2 separate regions of the Homo sapiens genome follow, and region 1 is linked to region 2. The links come from fine-mapping of genetic effects on gene expression. Tissue or cell type: ovary. Region 2 holds a variant in brackets; the other region holds the start of a gene. All regions are shown on one strand. Distances are from middle to middle.

Region 1 (10,970 bases), 35 kb before region 2:
TCTCCTTCTATACTCCCCTCAGTCCCTTCCCCAGATCTATCTCATTTCTGACACTCAGAAGGTATCCAATAAAATACATTTTGGGTAGAATTACAATCCAGATCACTGAAAGAACACCCTCTGCAGAGGCCTGAGATGGATTGCTCTTCTGTTTTGCTGGACTCTTACAGAGGGAAGATACAGCCAGACAGAAGGAAGAACTTTCTGGCATTGAGTGGAGTAATTTAGTAGAATGGGTAGGTTAGAAAAGTTAGAGAATCCCATTTGTTTGTATCCTTAACAACCAGAACATAGAAGCAGAGAAAAGAACAAGATGACCTTGGTGGACACTTTTCTGCCTGGAGAAAGTTCAGAAAATCCTTGGTGAGTTAAATCACTGCTCTCTCCCCTACAATTCTATCCACTCTCTCTTTCTACTTTTGAGCCTTTGGTACAGGAAGGAGACAAAGTCACTCAAATTCCCACATCAGCAATTTGGAGGAACAGACTCTTAGCAAAAAAAACAAAACAGCCAAACAAAACAAAACAAAAATGGCATTTGCAAACCCCAGGATCTGAGAAAGAAGAAGGTTGAGAGCTGAAATGGAGGCAGATGATTTGCATCTGGGCCTGGGCAGAGGGGCCCAGCTGCTCGGCCCAGAGCAGTGGCTCTGAGCAGCAGCTTCTCTGTCTTGGGACAGCCTCTATGGACAGCTGTCCTGGCTCTGCCCCAGGTCTGGGCAACCTGCCAGCTCAGCCTGTAGTTCTGCAGCTCCAGAACTTATACTCACTACAGCCCATCTGTTTGATGGGCTCATCAGTGTTCAGAAATTGTTCTTATTTATCAGTGTTATCAGGTTACATGTCTAGAGGATAATATTATTCAAAAGCAATATTTACTTGGCTTTTCAATGGAAAAGAGTCTTTCAAAATACTTTTTCTAATACCTTTATAATAATTTCTTACCAAATATCACTTAATATTTTCATTTTCCATAATAAACTACATGCAGTTATAAAAGGGTAGAGAAAAATAGTCTGTACAGGTGTTACTGACATCTAAAGCCAAGAGGATCTTAGAAAATATTTCTCTGTCAGAAGGTGATACCGATATCCAGTGAAATTAAGTAACTAGTATAGTTTTAAACTCAGATTGCTCTTTTACCCCTAGTTCAGGGTTTTTACTAAATTCTATAAAACACAAGAGAGGGAGCCATGGAATGACAAATAGGCCCTATCATGAGGCACCAAACTGCTGAATCACATAGGCAGTAGAGAGCTAATTCATTATCTCAGTTAGCATAAGGGTTTTTATTTTTAACCAAGGGAAAAAAAATGAACAAGCTCACAAAAAAACCTTCAGAAACCCTGAACTACTGCGTCTCGTATAAAAAGAACAAGTCATTTTGTTTTCATGAAGCACCTGGAATATATGCTCAGAGAAGTTCATGGTGCCAAAGATATAGAGACAATGTTTTCAAAGGGTGGGAAGGGCAGGTGAGAGGGAAAAAAGAGAAAGGGGAAGGAGGAAAGGAGGGAAGGAAGGAAAGAAGGAAGGAAGGAAGGAAGGAAGGAAAAGGAATGGAAGGAAGGAAGGGAAAGAAGGAAAGAAACAAAGAAAGAAAGAGAAAGACTATACAACTGAGAAAGAAGATAAACAGAGGAATACCCTGGGCCGCCTCCTCCTCCTAGGAATCATATAGTCTTCATCTTTGTCTTTCAGAAGCTGCTTGTAGAAGAGAAAAATATTTCTTTCAAAAAATAAATCACAAATACTATAAACATATAAACCTACATATGTACTCATAAAAATTAAGAATAAATATAAATAAAAACCAAAAATTAATACATCTTTTTTATTAACAAAAAAATCTCTAGCAATTGCTTGTGAAATGGTATCTTTAATGAGTGAGGTAATTTTGACAGATAGACATAGTATTCTGCAGAAACTGAAAATATTATATTTCATGCAAATCAAAACCACAATGAGATACCATCTCACACTACTCAGAATGGCTATTATTAAAAAGTCAAAAAATAAAAGATGTTGGCGAGGTGGCAGAGGAAAAGGAATGTTTATACACTGTTGGCGGGAGTGTAAATTAGTTCAACCCTTGTGGAAGACAATGTGGCGATTGCTCAAAGACCTAAAAACAGAAATATCTTTAGACTCAGCAATCCCATTACCGAGTATATACCTGGAGGAATATAAATCATTCTGTTATAAAGACACGAGCACATGTATGTTTGCTGCAACACTATTCACAATAGCAAAGACATGGAATCAACCCAAATGCCCAGTGATGATAGACTGGATAAAGAAAATGTGGCACATATACACCATGGAATACTATGCAGCCATAAAAAAGAATGAGATCATGTCCTTTGCAGCAACATGGATGGAGCTGGAGGCCATTATCCTTAGCAAACTAACACAGGAACAGAAAACCAAATACCGCATGTTCTCACCTATAAGTGGGAGCTAAATGATGAGAACACATGGACACATAGAGGGAAACAACACACACTGGGGCCTATGGGAGGGTAGAGGGTGGAAGGAGGGAGAGGATCAAAACAAATACCTATTGGGTACTAGGCTTAATACCTGGGTGATGAAATAATCTGTACAACAAACCCCTATGACAGGAGTTTACCTATGTAACAAACTTGCACATGTACCACTGAACTTAAAATAAAAGTTAAAAGAAACTATTATATTTCAAGAGTCTTAAAAATAGCTGCAATTTCTTGAGCATTTGCTGTAAGGTAGGCGCTGGACTGAATACTCTGTATTCCTTTATTCTTATAGCTCTACAACCACTCCTGTAAGGTTATCCCCATTTAGCAGCTAACAAACTGAGACCTAGAGATGTTAACGTATCCAAGACTACAGAGCTACTTGATGCCAGAGCTTCACTCTAAAGCCTGCTCTCCTAACCATCAAACTATCAATGTTAACAAAATGTTGACATTTGGGCCAGGACAATTATTCCTTATACTGAAGAGTCCCATCCCTTCAAAAGCACTTATCATCATTGGCCCTCAGGTACTAAATACCAGTATCAGCTTCCCATTTCTTTGAAAATTAAATCTCTCTCACATATTTCCAAACTCCCTACCGAAGTTATATTCTCCATTTCCCAAACATATTGGAAAACAACTGTTAAGGAAAACATTGAATTCTAGAAACTTAGGATTTAAAAGAGTTGTTAAGTTTCCATTAGTTCAGCTTTTATAGTTAATTTGTACGGAAAAGAATAGTAAATAAAGAGAATTAGGGCGTGTTGGATTTAGCATTTTACTTGTTGACTGTGAAGCTAATTCTCAGAGAAGCACATATTTAGCATCTACTATGTCCTGAGAAAATATGTTAGATATTTTCATGCCTACGTAAAAGGAATAGCGTGGGAGAAGGGTTGAGTGAGAAACAGAGAGAATTGTTATTTTCCTCACATTATACTTGAAGAAAATAATGTTTTGAGAACTTAATTTGCCAAGCAAGAATTTTATTTAGGATTATTTCTACCATATTATAGCTATACTATGGATACTCAATGGAGTTGTCCCATTGATGATTGGAAATGGAATTTAGAAACATGGTAAAAAAAAAATCTAACTATACCTATAGCCAAAAAATCAGAAAGAAGGTAATGAACATGTGAAAATCAGTCACAATTAACACATTAGAGGAGTGCCTTGTAGAATAAATATTGTGATATACATTCATAAATAAATGATTTAAAGAAGGAAACAGTAGAATCAGGAGAGAGACAGAAAGAAGATATCCAAAATGCAGCAGCATCCTACGGAGAAGAGTGTTCAGAGATACTGGAGAAGCGAGGAGGGATAGTTAGCAGTGCTGGATGCTCCCGGTGGGTGAAAGTGATTGAGGCCTGGGAGAAACCTTTTAGAGTTCAACAAGCCTTTTCCAAACTGAAAACCAATAAACTGAAGACATCTTCAGGGTGTAACCGATTTTAAAAGTTCAGCTTTGAAAACGTTGGGGAAAGCAGTCATTTACTACAAAAACAAAAACTTTGAAGTGGTTTGAACATAAAACAAAGTTAAGAAACTAACAGAAAAAAAAAGTAGTCAGTATTCAAAAACAAGCTTCGGGGGAATTTACCAGAGTATGAAAGTTATCAACACAGAGCGACTGGCTCAGAGCCCTCTCAAGTGTGTGATACGACTGGAAACTTCTTCTCTGAGATAAACGCCAGATCATTTATGAGAGAGAGCTTTCCCATTTTCAGACAGCTCTCCTGAGGACAGAAGGATTTATCTGCAGCAGTGGAATTCTAGTTATATGGTAGGAAGACTCCTGCACACACCTCTTTAAATGGACTGTACCTTTGCCTTAATAGGAAAAGATCTCCTGTTTTTCTGGAAAGACAGAGGCAGCTCTGGGGCAGGAAGGTCTTCCTAGTTGTGAGCACCGTGTCTACGGATGGTTTGTCCTTCGCTCAGTCTCCTGAGCCGGAGCAAAGGATGTGGCTGGGCCAGGAGGCGGGGACTGCATCTACATGTGTGGATGTGTGTGTGTGTGGTGTGTTCTCATTTCCGCTTCCCCTTTTGAGCAGGCAACAGCAGTTGAATGAGTTCAGGGAGAAAGGCATAATCTACAACATGATACTTTCTCACTTGCTTCACCTCTGTGCCCACACCTGTGAAGGCCTCGGCCCAGCTTCGACAACTGCTTTGCCTCAAACTCAGCTTTCTACCAGCAGACAGGTAAGCACAGCCTTTATCTCAGTTTCAAGGCTGTACTGATTTAGGGTGATGCTAGGAGAAAGAAGGAAACATGTCAGAGAAAAATCAGGCTGTCAAGTCAAGGGAAAATCAAGAGAAAATCTCCCACCACTCTTACTTCAACCTTAAAAGCATCCATCATTATGCCTAGGAGAACGATGCTGGGTGCCCTTTTGCTTTCGTTTGTTTGTTTTCTCTTTATTATCAGAGAGGTAATCTTTCTAGATTCTCAAAACTTGGGTCTCTTTGATGACTTGAATAACATTTTAGGAATTTTTTTTCACCTTTCTCACCTGCAAAGTTCTTCTCTGTGTCTTGCTGAACTCATTGTTGCTGCAATTTCCATCTGATTATAACATCGAAAAGTTCTCAAGGAAGAAGTTTCCCGGTTTCATTTCAGGCCCTACTCTAGTGTCCATAGCTCCAACCATTGAGAGTACCTGGCTGAAATCAACTTTGCTTTCTGTGGGTATGACCTCTTTCTTCAGAAGCTGTAGAAGAAACTTGTTGAGATAAACTGCAGCAAGATATATTGAGGTCAGCTACGAGGGAGGATGTACACACTTGAGTGAGGTAAGGTCAAATTCACCGGGAGGCTCAAGATAGATGGATAGCCACCATCAGGACCAGATTTCAGGGTTCACATCTCAAAGATAGATAGATGGATGTGTTGCCTTCTCAGTGACCTACATAATATTGGGGGCTTCATGCTCCTCCAACACCCCTTGCCCCAGTGGTAGCAGGCAGAGCATATCACCACCTACATGAGTTTTGGGGTAGATGGAGGAGTGGAAAGATCCTCCACCCTGGGGTTTTCCCATGCCCCTTCTGTGCCACTAAGCTCACCAGTGGGTGGAAGAAAAAGGGTGGGTCCCCAGGGCAGGGCAAGGACAAGAAAGGAGAGTTCCACAGAAGTGATTTGACAAGACTGTGAGCATTTACAGGAGATATCCAGGGAAGTACTAGTGACTCTGTATACCACAAATGGTCCTGAGTAGAGAGGTAAGGAGACTTTCTAGATGGTGCAGGGCAGTACCTAGGATGGGAGGTTGGAGGTAGGAACCTTCAACTTGTGTGTCCAAGTATCAGACTCAATAGTTGTTCAGCTGAGTGATTAGAGATAAAGATCTCACAATATTGTCTTGCAGCATGAAGTGTTAGTAGGAAGAAGGGAAGTCAGGTTTATTGTCTGTCTCTACTTGGACTATTATCAGAAATAACAAGCTGAAGATATAGCAGAAGGGATAGAAAGCAATTTAACATCTGAGTTATTCGCATGCACCCCAGGGTGTTTAGAAACCATTTACAACCACGCTACCAACATGTTCTCATAACTCTTGGGTTTTTTGAAAATTAAGATGGAACCCTGCGATTCAGCATTATGTAGTGAACATGAAGCCCCAACCGTCATTTTCAGTTCAATGTTTGATTTGGATTCTAGTATGGAGGTCTCGTCTCAGCCAATGCTGTGACTTACAAGATTCCTTCTGGGCTACAGTAAGGGGAAAAGATCACACGTTTATTTCCACCTGCAAACTGACAACTGTTCTCTTTTCCACCTAAGGCACAAGACCAAAGTGGATATTCCAGTACCCACAGTACTGTGTGCCTTACAACACCCAGGCCTGATGCAGAATGGCCTAAACACAGATTTCAGATTGAGAAAAGAGTTCAGTCAAATAAGTAGAGGGACGAGGAGAAGAGAGTGTGTAGATATTGAAAAAGAAAAGCAGGAAAGAAGAAAAATGAATATATGCAGGACAGAGCTTATTACCAAGGAAATGAAACTGAAGAATTAAAGATACGAATTCACAGAGCTAACACAATGGTTGAGAAATCTGCTCATTCTCCCTACTTTCTCTTGATGAAGCCATCTATAAATCAGCTCAGATAAACTGCTGTTTCTTATTCTTGATGTCTTTATTGCCCATTCAAATGAAGATATTTGATGTCTCCCTACATTGAGAACAAGCGATTAATTTTTTTTCCAAATCCACAACTTTAATATTTCCTGTAGCAATTATACAAGCCTTTCTTAAAATTCATATCCTAAAAGTGGAAGTAAGGAAGAAAGGGAAGGAGAGGAAAAAGGTCTTAGATGGTCTTCTTTCAGTATTTATTCAGCTACGCTTATTTGTGGGAGAAAGAGTATGAAAAGGGAGGGGAATAGGAGTTCTATTGACTAATGGGCATTTTTTCTTTCTGTTATTTACCAAGTAACATCTCTCCTTTTCCCCGAACAGATTGAACTGCTCCTTAGACAATAGAAGTCTCAGAATGCTCAAATATTATACTCAGGGAAATTCTTGTTCTGATGATCTTCCAACCTGAGTGACATGGAAGAGGGTTAGGAGCTAGAAGACAGTTCTATGAAGGAATGTGAGAATTTGTTGCAGATTGGGGTATGTCAAATGGGGGACAATCCACCTGGGTTGAGGTGGAGTTTGTCCAGTTCATGAACAGAGAAATGTTAGCTACTCTGGGATTTCCCGCAGCTCTGCGATGGTAATGATGTATATCTTGGCTGTGGATGCAGAAGGTCTTATGGGCCACATCATGGAAACCCCATTTCCTTCTTCTCTCCTCCCACACTGGTTCTCACTCTCAGTCTCAACTCACAGGCACTGCTTGGGGCATAGGTACAAAACAGACAGAAGAGAAGAGAGGTCTGTCTCATACATGTCCCCTAGAGCACTAAAGGCAAACCTGGGACTGGGCCTTGGAAACCAAGTGTGGCAGGAGGAAGGCTGTATGATATAAAGGAAGAAAGCATGCATCTGGAACTCAGAACTTGTGAGTTTGGTTCCCATTTAAAACCACTAATATTCTTTGTGACTCCAGGCAAGCCTGCTTCTCCCTCCCTCTCTCTCTCTCTTTCTCCCTCCTTTCTCTCTCTCTTCAGTTTCCTCAACTACAAAATGAGTGAACAGGATTAGGTAATCTCTCTGGTCCCTTTGGGAATTAGGTAAGAAAGAAAGACTTTTTTTTTTTAATATATTATACTTTAAGTTCTAGGGTACACGTGCACAATGTGCAGGTTTGTTACATATGTATACATGTGCCATGTTGGTGTGCTGCACCCGTTAACTCGTCAGTTACATTAGGTACATCTCCTAATGCTATCTCTCCCCCCTCCCCCCACCCTAGGACAGGCCCCAGGAAAGAAAGACTTTTCATTGCTTACTTTTTATCTCTGCTTAACACAGATTTAAAAAATCTTTTTCACCATCTTGATTTTATACTGTCAACTGTACCCTGCAATTCTCACCTTCTTCCTTCCTTCTTTCCTTCCTTATTCCTCAAGATGTTTCAACTTTAGTGAACATCTTAGACTGAGGGGAGATTCATAATCATAATCATATCTATCACTTATTAAGCACCACCTTTATACATCAGGGACTTAATATGTGTTACCTGATTACAACTGCCAATCACCCAACTAGTTTGGCACAGTATCTATTTTATGAAGAAAATTAGGTATAGACTAGGTGTGGTGGCTCACACCTATAATCCCAGCACTTTGGGAGGCCAAGGTGGGAGGATTGCTTGAGGCCAGGTGTTCAAGACCAGCCTGAGTAACACAGCAAGACAAAAGAAAAAGAAAAAGAAGAAACTTAGGTATAGAAGAAAAGATAGTGTTACCAAGGACAAATATGCAGAAAGCAGACAGAACTATGATTCCAAATTAGGCTTACTCTGATTCCAAGGCCCAAACTCTTTCTACAGTTTTCCTTTTCTTTAATTTCTAAATAACACTCTGAACTTTAAAGAAAAAGAAGCATTGGTCATCCTTACTGAGCCCCTTGAAAATTGCCCCATGGTGAAGTATCTGTAAGCAGAGCTGATATTTGTCAGGTGCAAACTGGTAGGCTAATAGTTGCTAAAATATTAAAATATGTCTACTAATGATAATTATCCACTTTCCCAAGCCCTCTGAGTGCCCATGACCAGCCCAGCTATCCCAGCTCTTTCCTCAAGACTCCCCAGACAGGCCCCAGAAATTCAAGGCCACATCAGCCATGTACCGGGCGGGGCCCCACCACAGGGCGGTGATGGTATCAGCTCTCATTGCTCTGTGGTGCCCCAAACCGTTATGAAATATTCTGAATGCCACAACAACCTGAAAGTAATGCGGAATTCCAGGCAGATTCTCTCCTCCCAACTAGAAGTTAGGTGGGCCCTTGCCAAAAAAACCACTCTGTAAGCCTGAGGAAGGCTAAACTGCTTCATAATCACCTAGCTGGAGTCAGAAAGGAAATTATTCTAATAACACAAACAAAGCAACACTTCCTGCACTAAGACTGTCACAGAACCAAATATAAATTACATTGTGTTTATGGTGCTTCTTCTCTACTAGACTATAAGATGGAGAGCTTACATAGATGCAAAATGGAGAATTTACTAAAATAACTTCTCCTTTTTTTTTAATCCCAAATTACATTGGATGGTGACATTGGGCCATTTTCTTATTCTAATGTCAGTGGAAAAACTATATAACATGGAGTCAGACCAACTTGAGTTTAAATCTCAGCACTACAGGGATGTGGCCTTGGACAAATAACGTATCTCTGTGAGGGTCAGGTAACCATAATCAGCTCTAAAGTGGTTGTCAGGATTAAGTTAAGCAGTTTACAGGAAAGTTTTATGGATAAATATGCAGTACTCTATACATTTCAGTTATTATGACTACCTACCTTTGACTTGCCCGTGTCAATGTGTAGTGAATCCCCACCTGCTTCCCTGGGAAAACAGAGACTAGAAATAGGCGATATTCTTCGAGTCATAATTATGACATACCTCTACAGGTTTTCTGCCGCTGCTACAGTTACTGCCTCTGATAATAATTTTTGTTGGAAGATACTCATTTCACAGCTCTTAACTCCCTCATCTTAAACCAGTGGAGGATATTTCTCCTGTCTAACCTCAATCCTATCTACTACAATTTCTGCTTTTAACTATAGCATCCTCAGAACAAGAATTATATCTTACTCCACTTGGCTGAACCCAGATTCCAGAACTCTTGAAAGATTGTGGAGAAGGATTTATGGAATGAACGTCTAGAGAAATGTAGAAAAGAGGAAAGAACAAAAGGCTGGAAATGGTAGCAGAGGGGGGACATGAGGGTTTGGGCGGATTCAGGCAAGAAGCAATAGTACCACTGTGGGAATTTCTTAGTTTCATGGGAAAATTGGAGAACAGATATCTACAGGCTTTATATTTCTATCCTCATAGAGAAGACTAAATATGATCACATACTATAAGCAGCATCAAGAGAGATGATAGATGAACTCCAGAAGGAAATTTTGATGAAGAAGTGAATAAAAACTTGAAATGAAAGACTCTGGAAAATATTTTTTTTAAATAGGAGAATTTGGTAGTTCAAGCTTCATAAATTAAGTCAGACTTGGGTGACCTTATGTTATGTCAACAAAGGACTGGAAAGACTATGCTCCAAGCCTTTTTCCTCTTCACTAACTGTGCAAAAATGTACATTAGGATCCAAGGCCATGAGGACAGTCAGGAGCACCCGTCCTATGACGAATACTAATTGGGGATAATTTCCCAGTGCCAGGGTGATTCTTGCTCCTCTGCAGGTACAGCACTTATGGAGTCCCTTCTTTTGCAAAGTACTGTGCTATGTTCTATGATGGGTTTAGGGGAGAAGTTACAAGTAGTGGTGAATGATGACAAGAGAGGTAGCCACTTACTGTCTTGTTGCATATGGCGCAGGCATGGGTGTTTGTTGCTACAGGTAGGACAGAGAAAGGAGATGACTTAAGTAGGCCCTTAAAGGGTAGAAAGAATTCGTTTGATTAGAGAGGAAGGGGGATGAAACTATAAGCTAAAGCAAAAAAGCAGAAAAGTTCAAGCAATGTTGAGAGTCAATGAGTAGCACCTGACTGACTCCCTGTATAAGTTCCTGTATGGCCTTCCTGTTCAGGCTCACCACTTTCCTGGATCCAATGTGAAGGTCGCATGTGCAGGAGCTCCATATGTTGGTGTTAATTTGAAAGGGAATTTGGTATATGGGAAGTAACTCTAGAGACCACTGAAGCATTTCGCATTTTTTAATGGGAAAAACTGTATAAATGCACTTTCTTTTATGGGTACTATTCCTATGCATATTTCAAACTCACCTAAATAAATTAATAAACATTGGTACTGGAAGTAAATTTACACAACATTGAGTCCAGCCAATCCCTTTCCTAGAGGATTAAACTGAAACCGTAATAAAAAAGCCTA
Region 2 (11,124 bases):
TTGGCAGCCTTGGAAGTAATCTTGGTGATCCATTTGAACTACAACTTAGAAAATGGGGATTAAGCAATGCAGATAAAGATTATCTTTCTGCCTTCCACAGCCAAAGAAAGAATGAGACAGTATAGATAAAGGGAAGACTGAGGAAGAGAAAAGAAGATACAGAAGTGTTATTTTGTCTGTGGTTTTGCATTTTGTGATTTCATTTACCTGAAATCCATTTTATACTTGAATGGGCTCAAGAAAAGGACTTAGCAAGATCATGCAACTAGTTAGTGTCAGAGCCAGAACTAAGGCCCAGGTCTCCTGAGATCCAAGCCAAGGCCGTTTCCATCAGAGCATATGGCCCTGATTGAGCAGAAGTTTAGGCTGTTACTGTGGATCAGGGCAAGCCTCGCTACCTGTACTTGGATCTGAGCTTCATTTACTGTGTGCCTTGACCCTTTATGCTAAGTACCAATACTCTCACTACCTTTGTCACCACTGAAATGTACTTGCCTTCTTATAAAGTCACCAGCAAGAGAAGCATTATACAGAATAAGCAGAAATGTTCACAGGATGCTTTGAGCTCATAGTTTAGTGAAAAACATGACAAGAGAATCAGTAATTATTAATAATTTTCATTAAATGCCATAGGGACCAGAAATTAACCTTTCAGAAGATGGCATTACTTTTTTTAACGATGTGTGTTGGCAAAGATGTAGAGAAGGTAGGCCGGGCACGGTGGCTCACGCCTGTAATCCCAGCACTTTGGGAGGCCGAGGCGGGCAGATCACGAGGTCAGGAGATTGAGAGCATCCTGGCTAACACGGTGAAACCCCGTCTCTACTAAAAATACAAAAAAAATTAGCCAGGCGTAGTGGCGGGTCCCTGTAGTCCCAGCTACTCGGGAGGCTTGAGGCAGGAGAATGGCGTGAACCCGGGAGGCGGAGCTTGCAGTGAGCTGTGATCGTGCCACTGCACTCTAGCGTGGGCGACAGAGCGAGACTCCGTCTCAAAAAAAAAAAAAGTAAATAAAAAAAGATGTAGAGAAGGTAAGTCTGGACAGATGTGTCCAACATTGAACAGGGAGAAGGTGGCTGAGGAGAGTAGAAAAAGGAAAAGCAGAATATTGATATTCTAGGCAGAGAGAAAGGTAAGTTCAAAGACAGATGAATGGAATACCACAATATCTTATGGAAACTACACCTTATGCCTAGTGGGAGAAAGGGGATGTGCTGGAGAAAGATCAAAACTGAAAATAAGAAAGATAAATAGAAAGGAAGTTATAAAACAGAGTCTCCTATGTTATTTTAAGTGTTTTGGTTTAGTCTAAGGTAGGAATCCACTGAAAAATTTACAAAGGAAGTGATGTGATTAGATTTGTCTTTTAGAAAGATTATTCTGGTAGAAGTATGGGAGATGGACTGGGTAGGAAGCCGGCAGAGTAAGGAAAATAATTTAAGAATCTACTGCAGAAACCTAGGGAGAAATGTGATGATCAGAAACAAGCTGAAGGCAGTGGGAATAGAGGGGAGGACGAGTGAGATTTTGAGATATTCAGGAGGTAAAATATCTAAGCCAGGACCGATTAGACTTGTGTTTGGGGAAGAAAAATGGAATAAGGAACAGAAAGAAAGATAGGGCATACAGGTTTCCTCTTGGGCAACTAAATGGATGTAAATATCATTTTATTAAGAATGAAGTAAAAATAGGAATAACAATTTGGAAGGCAAATATATTAAAGTATAATTTTCAAAAAGGTAAAATAATGACTCTCATGCAAATGTAGATAAACATGTTCAAAGACTTTACTCAATTCATTAATTACTGAAGGCACCAGCAATATGCTTGACCTGGTCCAAAGACTATTTGAGAAGTCAGTTTATACAGAGAGAGAATTTAACAGATTGCCATATTAGATACAAAACTGGTTAATATCCAATAACAGCATAAACTTTATCTCTGGGATTACTGGTTCCACTGGATGGAAATTATTTGCATCTCTACCCAACATAAATCACTAAGGTAATCTCTGCTCTTGCAAAACTATAAAATAGCAGTGTAAATAGAAAGTCAAGATTAACACTGTACTGAAAGAGTATCTAGTCATCTTGTTTGACTATTTAGAAAAAGCTGATGAGTTCATATCTGAACATGGTGAGTGTAAGGTACTTCTAAAATACTGTGATAAAGAGGTTCATGTCTTCATTGGTTTCTGTTGCTATAATAGAACATTACAAACTAGGTATTTTACTTTATAAAAGAAATTTATTTACTACAGTTCTGGGAGCTGGGAAGTCCAAGGTTGAGGGACCACATCCGGTGAGGGCCTCCTTTCTGCATCATAACATGGCAGAGGATATCACATGGTAAAAAAGCAAGAGCATGCCATCTCAGGTCTCCCTTCCTCTTCTTATATAGCCAAGATTCCCATCATGGGGCCTCACCCTGATGAGTTTATCTAATCCTAATTTTTTCCCTAAGACCTCACCTCTTGATACTATCACGATGGCAATTAAATTCCAACATGAATTTTGGAGGGCAAACTCAAACAACAGTCCATAAGGCAGTTTGGATAAAGGAATCTAGGAATTGAGCTTTTTGGAGTTCAAGGCTTACTTATAATAGGTGACGGCATGAGGAAAGATAGTTCACCCAAGAAAGTATGCAGAATCAGAATCTGAAGTAAAAAAAAAAAAACAACTTAGAAATATTAATATTTAAAGTTTTATCAAGGAACAACGTATATAAAGGAGCAATATTGATTAGAAAAAGGTTGCAAATAGAAACCAAGTGATGTTTCTCTCAAGAAGGAGGGTGTAGTCTTCAGTAACATTTACCATAAAATATCCAATAGGAAGGAAAATGCAAAGATACCATTGTATTTGTGACTAGATAACAATTACTAACCTTGATAAGAATATTTTTATTTGGGTGACAAGGCTTTAAAATATTAATATGAAAAGTGAATAAGAAATGTTGAAAAGAAAGTAGGTAAATAATTTTTTTCTAGGATGGTGAAAGTTTAAGCATACAGTAAATATTTCCCTGGAAGGAAAGAATCAATAGAATGGGAAAGGCTATGGTTTAGGAGGGAAGGAATTGTATGAGTCTCTTCTCACATTGCTGTAAGGACCTAGCTGAGAGTGGGTAAAGAAAAGAGGTTTAATTGGCTCATGGTTCCACAGGCTGTGCAGGAGGCATGGCTAGGGAGACCTCAGGAACTTTCATTCATGGCAGAAGGGGAAGGGGAAGCAAGCACATATTCACATGGTCAGCAGGAGAGAGAGAGAAGGGGGAAGAGCTACACACTTTTAAACAACCAGATCTCATGAGAATTCACTCGCTGTCATGAGAACAGCAAGGGGGAAATCTGCTTCTGTGATCCAATCACCTCCCATGAGGCCCCACCTCCAACATTCAGGATCACAATTCAACATGATATTTGGGTGGGGACACAGAGCCAAACTATATCAGGGATGTTAATGGTGTGAAGTCACTGAGAACTGGGATGAGATGAGATTCAAGGCACTTTTGGAGGGTGTAGCTAGCCATAAAGTAGTGTGACAGATATTTCTCTGAGATTAAAGGGAAAAAAAAATGGAAAAAAATTTTAAGTGTCAATATGGTTATATTGGTCATCTGGAGAGGAAGTCAAGAAAAATTCTGCCTATTTCTTTCTCTCTTTTTCCTGTGGGGTCATTACTAAAAAGTGTGAGTCAGGAAAGGAATGGTAAAAATTTGAGAATTCTACTATGTAGAAAAAACAAGAGAAATACTTATTAATAGAAAATGCATTGCTAGTTGAATAGGTGAATAATGTTAGGCTCATTTCAAGGTGCAGAACATGAATTGATAGTGGTTTAGTGATATTCTCCAACAGTGTTCAGCAATCCATACAAAAAAATAAAGGTATAAATGTATGCCTTTATAAGTATTAAACAGTAAGAGGTAAACTCTTGCAGGAATCTCACCTCATGATGAAAAGAGCAGAAACCCCAAGTCACATGACTCTTTGCTGCTGCTGCTAATAACTTTAAATGTCACTTATAATACTGAGAAACATTTCCACAGCTGAGGTATGAAAGTTCCTACCAACCTCAGTACCCAAAGTTGTTTAAAAAATGCATGATATGTATCTTTTTTATTCCCATTGCAGGCTTTCTCCACCACCACAACAGCATGTGGTCTGACAGAATTGGCTTCAAAGAAGAAACTAAAAGCCACCTCTTGCAGGAAACTGCACTGCCCTCAACATCCAGCCCCTACTCCTTGGTCCTCCAAACCCCCAAACTCTGCAGGAGAAAGGCAGCATGGTACATGGGGAGGAAGACCAGACTGAGCGATTTGGAATCCACATCCTAATGCTGCCACAAGCTGCATGCACAAAGACCTTAGGCACATCTCTTCATTTCTCTGTACACTGGTTTCTCTACTATGTGTGTATTAAAATATATAATGTGGATGATAGTAAACTGAACAAAGCCTTAATTTTCTCCCAAGCTTTGACATTGCCAAGGGCAGTTAGGAGACTTCAGGATCAAGTTTAGGGGACAAGTTTTTTTCTAATACTTTCAAAAGGCCCAAGTGAAGAGAGGAAGGACACCTCACTTTCTGGCTCTAAAAGCATGGTACATCTCACACTAGGATTCCCTCTGCACCTCTGTTCATCCCTGTATTCCTAACTAAATTCCAGAAAATCTTCTACAACACTGGAGTCCTATTTTTCTTCTTGAGACCTCCTTTGAAGAAATCAACTTGGAGACTCCTCCTTAAATCCAGTTTCTTTCTCTACCCAAAATTTTGCATCTTTATAGAAAAAGAGATAAGTAGGATTCAGAGTCTCTTCTCCTAGCCATTGTGGGGGGAAAAAATGCTATTTCTGTTGGCAGAAAACAATACAAATATTTTTTTTAAATCATGGCATGTTTTTAAAGTTAACTAACAGCTGTAGTTTGCTTTGGAAGTTAAATGTTTTGTCAATAAACAGGGCTTGAGCACATGCAGTGCTCTCTTAGGCAGTATGTGGTTTCAGAGCATCTTGGACACATTTCTCCCCTGAGAAAATATTAATATTAATAGAATGGGAGAAGTAAGATGCACGCATTTCCAGAAGTATATTATTTGGCTGCCTAATAAATTGTGAGACAAAAGAAAAAAAAAAAAAAAACAGGAAGAGAGGGACTTGAGGGAATTTGAGGGAAATCATAACCAAAAGTTTAAAGGAAAAAATTACACCAGACATGATAAGCAGAAGTTGATTTTGTTCTGGTGCTATTGCCAGCATTAGGGGAGAAGGCACAAACTGAGTCTGATACGTAGTGAGGCAGAGACAAAAGGGCTAGGGTGGAAAAATTTTTAAACCATCTGTGTTTACTAATTCCCCATACCAAAAGAACAAAATGAACTTTCTCCTATTTCATGATAAAAGATAGTTTCACAATTTGGAAAAAGCCCCCC[CA/A]CTCCAAGTTTCCTACCCTTCCCACCCACAGAAACCAGGAGACAGGGGAACTATCTTCCTTGATGTTAACATTTCAAAGAGGTGGTTCTCAGGTCCTAGAGAAAGATATTCCTGAGTTGTAAAACTGGGAAGAGGCTGGAAGAAGATTTAGATCTCAAGAAATAGAAAGAACTACAGCAAATTTTCTAAAGCAAATATTCTTAAGGGAGGTCAAGGGCCTGAAGTCAGGAAGAAACCTATTTGGTCAAGCTGAGGGGAAAGTTAAGGCTATCTTGTCACAAGAGAACAGAAATATCTGACAATATTTCATTTAAAGAACTGTATTAGTCCATTCTCACACTGCTATAAATAAATACCTGAGACTGGGTAATTTATACAGAAAAGAGGTTTAATTGGCTCACAGTTCCGCAGGCTGTACAGGAAGCATGGCAACATCAGTTTCTGGGGAGGCCTCAGGGAGCTTTAACTCATGGTGGAAAGCAAAGTGGGAGCAGGCATCTTACATGGTATGAGCAGGAGGAACAAAGGAAAGGGGAGGTGCTAACACTTTTAAATGACCAGATCTTGTAAGAACTCACTCATTATACAGTACCAAGGGGAGATGGTGCTAAACGATTAATGAAAACTCTACCCAGTAATCCAATCACCACCCACCAGGCCCCACCTCCAACAATGGGGATTACAGTTTGACATGAGATTTGGGTGAGGACACAGATCCAAACTGTCAGGCCTCTGAGCCCAAGCTAAGCCATCATATCCCCTGTGACCTGCATGTATACATCCAGATGGCCTGAAGCAAGTGGAGAATCACAAAAGAAGTGAAAATGGCCTGTTGCTGCCTTAACAGATGACATTACTTTGTGAAATTCCTTCTTCTGGCTCAGAAGCTCCCCCACTGAGCACCTTGTGACCCCCACCCCTGCCTGCCAGAGAATAATCCCCTTTGACTGTAATTTTCCACTACCTACCTAAATCCTATAAAACAGCCCCACCCCTATCTCCCTTTGCTGACTCTCTTTTTGGACTCAGCCTGCCTGCACCCAGGTGATTAAAAAGCTTTATTGCTCACACAAAGCCTGTTTGGTTGTCTCTTCACACGGACGCCCGTGACATTTGGTGCTGTGACTTCGATCGGGGGACTTCCCTGGGGAGATCAATCCCCTGTCCTCCTGCTCTTTACTCCATGAGAAAGATCCACCTACGACCTCTGGTCCTCCGATGAACCAGCCCAAGGAACATCTCACCAATTTTAAATTGGGTAAGCGGCCTCCTTTTACTGCCTTCTCCAACCTCTCTCACTATCCCTCAACCTCTTTCTCCTTTCAATCTTGGCACCATCCTTCACTCTCTCCCTTCTCTTAATTTCAGTTCCTTTCCTTTTCTGGTAGAGACAGAGGAGATGTGTTTTATCCATGAACCCAAAACTCCGGTGCCGGTCAGGGACTTGGGAAGACAGATTTCCCTTGGTGTTTAATCACTGCAGGGACACCTGCTTGATTATTCACCCACGTTTCAGAGATGCCTGATCACCGCAGGGATGCCTGCCTTGATCCTTCACCCTTAGTGACAAACACCAGTTTCCTAGGGTGCAAACACCCCCCCACCCCTTCTCTCCGTGTCTCTACCCTCTCTTTTCTCTGGGCTTGCCTCCTTCACTATAGGCAACCTTCCACCCTCCATTCCTCCTTCTTCTCCCTTAGCCTGTGTTCTCAAGAACTTAAAACCTCTTCAACTCACACCTGACCTGAAACCTAAATGCCTTATTTTCTTCTGCAATGCTGCTTAACCCCAATACAAACTCAACAATGGTTCCAAATAGCCAGAAAAAGGCACTTTCAATTTTTCCATCCTACAAGATCTAGATAATTCTTGTCGTACAATGGGCAAACGGTCTGAGGTGCCTGAGGTCCATGCATTCTTTTACACATGGGTCCCTCTCTAGTCTCTTTTCCCAATGTGACTCATCCCAAATCCTCCTTCTTTCCCTTCCACCCTTCCCCTCAGTCCTAACCCCAAGCATCACTGAGTCTTTTCAATATTCCTTTTCTACAGACCCATCTGACCTCTCCCCTCATCCCCAGACTGCTCCTCCTCAGGTCGCTCCCCACCAGGCTGAATCAGGCTCCAATTCTTCCTCAGGCTCTGCTCCCCCACCCTATAATCCTTCTATCACCTCCCCTTCTCACACCCAGTCCGACTTACAGTTTCTTTCCCCGACTAGCCCCCGCCACCTGCCCAGCAATTTCCTCTTAAATCGGTGGCTGGAGCTAAAGGCATAGTCAAGGTTAATGCTCCTTTTTCTTTATCCGACCTCTCCCAAATCAGTTAGTGTTTAGGCTCTTTTTCATCAAATGTAAAAACCCACCCCAGTTCATGACTTATTTGGCAGCAACTCTGAGACGCTTCACAGCCCTAGACCCTGAAAGGTCAGAAGGCTGTCTTATTCTCAATATGCATTTTATTACGCAATTCATTCCCAACATTAAATAAAGCTCCAAAAATTAGATTTTGGCCCTTAAACCCCACACAGGTCTTAATTAACCTTGTCTTCAAGGTGTACAATAATACAGAAGAGTTGCAATTACTTGCCGCTGCTGTGAGAGAAACTCCAGCCACATCTCCAGCACACAAGAACTTCAAAACGCCTAAGCCACAGCAGTCAGGCATTTCTTCAGGACCTCCTCCCCCAGTATCTTGTTTCAAGTGCTGGAAATCTGGCCACTAGGCCAAGGAATGCCCACAGCCTGGGATTCCTCCTAAGCTGTGTCCCATATGTGCAGGACCCCACTGGAAATCGGACTGTCCAACTCACCTGGCAGCCACTCCCAGAGCCCCTGGAACTCTGGCCCAAGGCTCTCTGACTGACTCCTTCCCAGATCTTCTTGGCTCAGTGGCTGAAGACTGACACTGCCCACTTGCCTCAGAAGCCTTCTGGACCATCACAGATGCTTTCGGTAACTCTTACAGTGGAGGGTAAGTCCTTCCTCTTCTTAATCAATATGGAGACAACCCACTGCACATTACCTGCTTTTAAAGGGCCTGTTTCCTTTGCCTCCATAACTGTTGTGCGTATTGACAGCCAGGCTTCTAAACCTCTCAAAACTCCCCAACTCTGGTGCCAACTTGGACAATATTCTTTTATGCACTCCTTTTTAGTTATCTCCACCTGCCCAGCTCCCTTATTAGGCCAAGACATTTTAACTAGATTATCTGCTTCCCTGACTAGGCTACAGCCACACCTCATTGCCACCCTTTTCCCCAGTTCAAAGCCTCCTTCAAATCCTCCCCTTGTATCTCCCTACCTTAATCCACAGGTATGGGACACCTCTACTCCCTCCCTGGCAACTGGTCACATACCCATTACTATCCCATTAAAACCTAATAACCCTTATCCCACTCAATGCCAATACCCCATCCCACAGCAAACTTTAAAAGGATTAAAGTTTGTTATCACTTGCCTGTTACAGCATGCCCTTTTAAAGCCTATAAACCCTCTTTACAATTCCCCCATTTTACCTGTCCAGAAACTGGACAAGTCTTACAGGTTACGTCAGGATCTGTGCCTTATCAACCAAATTGTTTTGCGTATCCACCCTGTGGTGTGAAACCTCATATACTCTCCTATCCTCAATACCTCCCTCCACAACCCATTATTCTGTTCTAGGTAAACCTAGCTGACCCCATAGATCCTAAATCCTTTCTCCACTCCCCTATCCATTCCTTAAAAAACAGCTCCCACACTAGCTCTCCCTAACTTATCACTCCCTTTCCACTACACACAGCTGAAGTGCAGGGCTGTGCAGTTGGAGTTCTTACACAAGAGCTGGGACCACGCCCTTTAGCCTTTCTGTCCAAACAACTTGACGTTACTGTTTTAGCCTAGCCCTCATGTCTGCATGTGGCAGGTACCACTGCTTTAATACTTTTAGAGGTCCTCAAAATCACAAACTATGCTCAACTCACTCTCTGCAGTTGTCATAACTTCCAAAATCTATTTTCTTCCTCACATCTGATGCATATACTTTCTTCCCCCCTCCACTACCTCTCAGCAAGCCGAACTCATTGCCTTAACTTGAGCCCTCACTCTTGCAAAAGGAGTACACATCAATATTTATACTGACTCTAAATATGCCGTCCATATCCTGAACCACCATGCTGTTATATGGGCAAAAAGAGGTTTCTTCACTACACAAGGGTCCTCCATCATTAATGCCTCTTTAACAAATAGTCTTCTCAAGGCCGCTATACTTCCAAAGGAAGCTGGAGTCATTCACTGCAAGGGCCATCAAAAGGCATCAGATCCCATCACTCAGGGCAACACTTATGCTGATAAGATAGCTAAAGAAGCAGCTAGCATTCCAATTTCTCTCCCTAACTGCCAGTTTTTCTCCTTCTCATCGGTCACTCCCACCTACTCCCCCACTGAAACTTCCACCTATCAATCTCTTCCCACACAAGGAAAATGGTCCTTAGACCAAGGAAAATATCCCCTTTCAGCCTCACAGGCCCATTCTATTCTTTTGTCATTTCATAGCCTCTTCCATGTAGGTTGCAAACCGCTAGCCCATCTCTTAGAACCTCTCATTTCCTTTCCATCATGGAAATCTATCCTCAAGGAAATCACTTCTTAGTGTTCCATCTGCTATTCTGCTACTCCTCAGGGATTGTTCAGGCCCCCTCCCTTCCCTACACATCAAGCTCAGGGATTTGCCCCTGCCCAGGACTGGCAAATTAATTTTACTCACATGCCCCAAGTCAGGAAACTAAAATACCTTTTGGTCTGGGTAGACACTTTCACTGGATGGGTAGAGGCCTTTCCCACAGGGTCTGAGAAGGCCACCGTGTTCATTTCTTCCCTTCTGTCAGACATAATTCCATGATTTGGCCTTCCCACCTCTATACAGTCCAATAACAGACAGGCCTTTGCTAGTCAAATCACCCAAGCAGTTTCTCAGGCTCTTGGTATTCAGTGGAAACTTCATACCCCTTACCATCCTCAATCTTCAGGAAAAGCAAAACAGACTAATGGTCTTTTAAAGACACACCTCACCAAGCTCAGCCTCCAACTTAAGGACTGGGCAGTACTTTTACAACTTACCCTTCTCAGAATTCGGGCCTGTTCTTGGAATGCTACAGGGTACAGCCCATTTGAGCTCCTGTATGGATGCTCATTTTTATTAGGCCCCAGTCTCATTCCAGACACCAGCCCAACTTGGATTGTGCCCCAAAAACTTGTCATCCCTACTATCTTCTGTCTAGTCATTCTTCTATTCACCATTCCCAACTACTCATAAATGCCCTGCTCTTGTTTACACTGCCGGTTTACACTGTTTCTCCAAGCCATCACAGCTGATATCTCCTGGTGCTATCCCCAAACCACCACTCTTAACTCCCTCTTAAAGTAAATAATCTTTGCTGGCAGGGCACCCTCCAATACTTTCACCCTGATGAAGTCCTATTCTTTACCTTAAACTCACTCTTATTCTCGTTTCTGTTCTTATGCCACCCTCTACCTCTCCCCAGCTATCTCTACCACACTATCAATCTCACTCACTCTCTCCTAGCCATTTCTAATCCTTCTTCAACAAACAATTGCTGACTTTGCATTTCTCTTTCCTCCAAAATCGCCAAGGCCCCGACTTACTGCTAAAAAGGGGGGACTCTGTATATTTTTTAATGAAGTG

The links. PIP is the estimated chance that this variant, and not a neighbour inherited with it, causes the effect.
Region 1: TESPA1 starts here. The variant in region 2 is fine-mapped to the expression of TESPA1 in ovary (GTEx, PIP above 0.99).

The regions. Positions count from the first base shown.
Region 1 is chr12:54,978,324-54,989,293 of GRCh38, reverse strand. It overlaps TESPA1 (thymocyte expressed, positive selection associated 1), which reads left to right and starts at 4,532. Exons shown (of 11, transcript NM_001136030.3): 1 at 4,532-4,709. It overlaps LOC107984515 (a long non-coding RNA gene), which reads right to left and starts at 4,443. Exons shown (of 2, transcript XR_001749161.2): 1 at 4,329-4,443.
Region 2 is chr12:54,943,405-54,954,528 of GRCh38, reverse strand. TESPA1 (thymocyte expressed, positive selection associated 1) reads left to right here. Exons shown (of 11, transcript NM_001136030.3): 11 at 4,139-6,514. It also overlaps the pseudogene LOC105369778. Among named protein-coding and RNA genes, the nearest start is that of TESPA1, 36 kb to the left of the region's middle. The variant CA/A (reference allele first, on the strand shown) is at 5,440.